2 separate regions of the Homo sapiens genome follow, and region 1 is linked to region 2. Evidence: fine-mapped expression QTL. A gene starts in region 2. The other region holds a variant in brackets. All regions are shown on one strand. Distances are from middle to middle. Region 1 overlaps LRRC52-AS1 (LRRC52 antisense RNA 1). Region 2 holds the start of LRRC52-AS1 (LRRC52 antisense RNA 1).

Evidence for each region. PIP is the estimated chance that this variant, and not a neighbour inherited with it, causes the effect.
Region 1: its variant is the best candidate, but not a certain one, in a credible set for the expression of LRRC52-AS1 in testis (GTEx, PIP 0.67).

What each region holds. Positions count from the first base shown.
Region 1 is chr1:165,539,956-165,542,791 of GRCh38, forward strand. All of the region lies in intron 3 of LRRC52-AS1 (LRRC52 antisense RNA 1), which reads right to left. Among named protein-coding and RNA genes, the nearest start is that of LRRC52, 2.6 kb to the right of the region's middle. The variant G/T (reference allele first, on the strand shown) is at 1,120.
Region 2 is chr1:165,580,794-165,583,629 of GRCh38, forward strand. LRRC52-AS1 (LRRC52 antisense RNA 1) reads right to left here and starts at 1,362. Exons shown (of 7, transcript NR_026744.2): 1 at 562-1,362. It also overlaps the pseudogene RPS2P10.

The sequences.
Region 1 (2,836 bases), 41 kb before region 2:
TTACAGGCTTCCCCTTGGATTCCTCTGGACAGTGAATCCTGCAGAAGTATAGAATGCGGATGAAGCCTGGAAATCAAAGATATCCCTGGGGAATGCAACAAATGGGAGTGATTTCCTCTGGCCCTCTGGCCTTTACTCTGTTAGAGTCCAATCTCCCTAGTGGAGACTCCGGCAGCCTGAAGGGAAAAGACAAAAATAGTTTCTACCAGCTGGCACAGCAAACAGAACCAAGGCTCATGAATAGACAGATACACACATATTCAGCCCTTAGGCCTCAGCCTTCCCGGCATGTTTTGGAACTCTTTTTCCACTTTCAGGCTGAACTTTTTGTCCCCAAGCCCCACACCTGCTGAGAGATGAGTTTGCTGAAGAGGGCCCAGGCAGTGTCAAAAGTCTGGAGTGAACTGGATACCATAAGTGGCTCCTACACCAAAGTCCTTGAGACTGTTACATTCTTTAGACCTGAACCCACAACATTCCCTGCCTGGGGAGCAGTTTAACAAAGTACTGACTTGTGTGCCCCTACGTTGCTAACCCCATGTAAGTCCTAAGTTGAGCACATTGGCAGTTTCAATGGAATAAAATGGCATGTGCACTTCCTTCTGCTATTTTTCTCCTGAGAAAATAAAAGCATGCCAAAATTAAATATCCCTTAGCACTTGTACCCAGACAGCTGAGTGGACTATTTACTAGCTAACATTCATGGTCTGCTTTGTAATCGCTTGACTCTGTCTTAGTTGCTTGGGCTTTGACGCTTCAATCATCTGTTCTCTCCCTTCACAACTGAAGTTTGATGGAACTTTAAAACTGGGAAAGCCTTTGGAGAGCGTCCTGTCTTGTTTTACAGAAAGAAAATCAGGGCTTTGAGAGGGCACGATGTCATACTGCCTCAGCTTCTCAATTGTGTTCACTTTGCCCTATATCACCCAGCCTCTTCTTTGTATGATATCAGGGCCTGTGCCCACCTGTCCTTTGGATCACCAGAGAGCTGTTTGGAGGCACACTGGCACCTGAGAGGGATCATTAAGCTGGGAAGACAGTGCCTCCATCAGATACAGCTAAAAATAGGAGCCTGCCTGAGAGCAGAGTCAGCTAGCGCGATTGTATGAGACAGGAGGG[G/T]CCTCTCCAAGTGCTCACTTGATGCTTCACCTGTCCTCCTGGAAGGATGGGCACACCAGCTATCCAAGGGGCAGGGGCAGGCTAATAAAACAGCCACACACACGAAGGGCGACCATGCTGCATCTGAAGCTGCATGAGCCGCTCACTGGGTAGAGAGATTGTCCTTTTTGCAGCCACATGATAGGTGGGACTATATGGTGTGATTAGAAGGAGTAGAAAGGCGGCCGGGCATAGTGGCTCACGCCTGTAATCCCAGCACTTTGGGAGGCCGAGGCGGGTAGATCACGAGGTCAGGAATTTGAGATCAGCCTGGCCAACATGGTGAAACCCTGTCCCTACTAAAAATACAAAAATTAGCTGGGTGTGGTGGCGCACATCTGTAATCCCAGCTACTCGGGGGGCTGAGGCAGGAGAATCACTTGAACCTGGGAGGCAGAGGTTGCAGTGAGTCAAGATAACACCACTGCACTCTACTAAAAATACCAAAAAAAATTAGCTGGGCATGGTGGTGGGGGCCTGTAATCCCAGCTACTTGGGAGGCTGAGCAAGAAGAATAGCTTGAACCTGGGAGGCAGAGGTTGCAGTGAGCCAAGATCGTGCCATTGCACTCCAGCCTCTACTGGTTTGCTGGGTGATGCCTGAAACCTTTCCATTATGAAGGAATTTGGAAGTCCTAAAGACACTTGGAAATTATCTACTTCATTTCCCTCAATATGTAGATGACAGAAATAAAGCCCAGAGAAATTAAGCACCTCAACCAAGAACAAACAGCCTAGTCTAGGACTTCCCAAAGCAGGATTTCTGAAATAATAGTTTCACAAGTTGTTCTTTGAAAACAAAATTTATTTAAGGTTCTGAAATCAGGTAATTCAAGCAATGCTACATTCTCTTTTCTTTGTCTAGTCTGCTTCTTCTTTATCGAACATATATTTATTCAGTCTCAAAATGAGGTACACACTTTAGAGATGTGGTCTAACCTGGCAAAGCTGAAACTAGCCCATGAGTGTCCAGGTTTCAGGACCAAAAACAATACAGCTACCTCAAACAAAAAGAATATTCCCTGAGGTTAAACCACTCATAGTGCTTTGTGAAAATGGTAATACTCCAGAGCCAGGCATAGCTGACTGGTGTCAGTCAATAACCTTTAGCATGATATATTTACCTAAGGCTTTTCTAAGCAGAGCACTTGTAACCATACGGCCAAACAGGTAGGCCTAATCCTGAGACTACTATCTTGAGAAAGCTAGTATGGATAATGAGGCTGGAAATGAAGTAGGGCAACCTGGAGATGGGGCCGTCTGAGGGGAAGAAGTCAGAAAGAGGGAGAATGGCATAAAAGAAAAGGTGACACGTCAGCAAAATCACTCCATGAGCTTTGGCGAGTGAATCAGTGATCATTTCTCATGGAAAGGAAGCAGACAACAAACACAGCCCTTCCAAACAAAGTATCCCTGCCACACTCCACCAGCAAAACACACCCTCGCCACAGCTCCCAGAGCAGTCACTTTGGAAATTAATTCTTTTCTATAGACTTCATGTGCTAGATTTCTCTCCTCGGCAATCACATAAGATCTAGAAAGGAACTTATATTTTAATAGAATTTGTTTTAATTATGAGGAAAGGGTGTCTGCCCTATCAATTAAGTCATGCTTCAATTAGTACAGCTATCATTGGGGTCATTACTTTAAGTATTTGAAATGTCTACTTAAATAAGGTC
Region 2 (2,836 bases):
CAGGTAGGAACCATGGCTTTCTCTAAGCTGCCTTTTATTTGCTGACTTTTGAGAGGGGACGTCTTACTCAGGCACAGTCACATGTGCCTGTAGCCCTAGCTACTTTGGAGGCCAAGGCAGGAGGATAGTTTGAGTCCAGGAGTTCAAGACTGCAGTGTGCTGTAACTGTGCCTATGAATAGCCACTGCTTAGGCAACACAGTGAAACCCCATCTCTAAAAGAAAAAAAAAAAAAGACCAGACATCTTAGAAAGATTCTTCAAATCCTAACCCTAGTTAGACATTAGACATTGAATGCCTCTCCTAGACTTGACTAATGGAGAAAAAATGCCTTTAAGTGTTTCATCTGTTTCATCTTACTCATTCCTCAGAACATTCTGCTGACATCAACAGCCTCCAGGCCTTTGCACATGCATGTCTTTCTTTATGAAATACACACACACATGCACACATGTCTCTACACCCTGCTTATTCTATAAATCCATATTCATCCTTCAACTTCTTGCTCAAGTATCACTTCTATTTTAAAATTTCCCAGACACCACAGCCTGCCCCAACTCACCCATTCTCACTGCAGTGACGGCTCCCAGAACCTGAACAAACCACAAGTCTGATCTTGCCGCACTGTGATGACTGATCTTCTGGTTTCTCCCCAACAACCATGGGTTCCCCAAAAAGCAATACTTTGTAACCCTAGCACTTGCTATCATGCCTAATGTCTAGCAAGTACGCACAATTTGTTGCGTTAATATATTCCACATGTAGCTTCTTCTCCGAGAAAACACCAAATGGCGGATGACGCCGGCGCAGCCGGCATTGGGTTGCGGGGGGAGTCCCGGAGGCCCCGGGGCCCTGGGATGGGGAACCATGGTGGCTTCCGTGGAGGTTTCGGCAGTGGCATCCGAGGCCGGGGTCACTGCCGTGGACCAGGCTGGGGCCGAAGCCACGGAGCTCGCGGAGGCAAGGCCAAGGATAAGGAGTGGATGCCCGTCAGCAAGCTGGGCTGCCTGGTCAAGCACATGAAGATCACTTCCCTGGAGGAGATCTGTCTCTTCTCCCTGCCCATCACGGAATCTGAGATCATTGATTTTTTCCTGGGGGGCCTCTCTCGAGGCCTAGGTTTTGAAGATTATGCCGGTGCAGAAGCAGACCGGAGCCGGCCAGCGAACCAGGTTCAAGGCGTTTGTGGCCATTGCGGGCTACAACGGTCACGTCGGTCTGGGTGTTAAGTGCTCCAAGGAGGTGGCCACTGCCATCCACAGGGCCATCATCCTGGCCTAGCTCTCCATTGTCCCCATGCGCAGAGGTTACTAGGGGAACAAGATCGGCAAGCCCTACACCATCCGTTGCAAGGTGACGGGCTGCTGCGGCTCCGTGCTCGTGCGCCTCATCCGCGTGCCCAGAGGCACCGGTATCGTCTCGGCGCCTGTGCCCAAGAAGTTGCTCATGATGGCTGGTATCGATGACTGCTACACCTCAGCCAGGGGCTGCACTGCCACTCTGAGCAACTTCGCCAAGGCCACCTTTGATGCCATCTCTAAGACCTACAGCTACCTGACCCCTGACCTCTGGAGGACGGCTGTATTCACCAAGTGTCCCTATCAAGAATTCACTGACCACCTCGCCAAGACCCACACCAGAGTCTCCGTGCAGAGGACCCAGGCTCCAGCTGTAGCTACAACATAGGGTTTTTATACAAGAAAAAGAAAGTTAATTAAGCCTGTAAAATATACATACATATATGTGTGTGTATATATACATATTATATATGTATATATGTGTGTGTATATACATTATATATATGTATATATGTGTGTATATATACATATATACGTATATATGTGTGTATATATACATATATACGTATATATGTGTGTATATATACATATATACGTATATGTGTCTATATACATATATACGTATATGTGTGTGTATACATATATACGTATGTATGTGTGTATACATATATACGTATGTGTGTGTATACATATATACGTATGTATGTGTGTATACATCTATACGTATGTATGTGTGTGTATACATCTATACGTATGTATGTGTGTATACATATATACGTGTATACGTATACACATATGTATATGTGTATACATATACACATATATGTGTATGTATGTGTATACATATACACATATATGTGTATGTATGTGTATACATATACACATATATGTGTATGTATGTGTATACATATACACATATATGTGTATGTATGTGTATACATATACACATATATGTGTATGTATGTGTATACATATACACATATATGTGTATGTATGTGTATACATATACACATATATGTGTATGTATGTGTATACATATACACATATATGTGTATGTATGTGTATATGTATGTATATATACACATATACATACATGCATGTATATATGTATGTATATGTATACATATATACATACATTGTATATACGTATACATATACACACATATATGTATATACGTATACATATACACACATATATGTATATACGTATACATATACACACATACATACATATATACACATACATACATATATACACATACATACATACATATATGTATATGTGTATATATACATATATGTGTATATATTCCAACTGTAAAATATACATATATGTGTGTATATATATATTCCACCTGTAATATATATATACATTCCACCTGTAAAATATAAAATTATGACACTGATTTTTAAAGTGTTATATAACTTACTCATACTGTTGTTTTCAAAAGCCAGCTTAAGCCAGAGGGGGAAAAAAAATAATCACACTAGTTTGGTCTTCTCTTTTAATCTGAATCAGAATTACTTGGCTTTATCCCC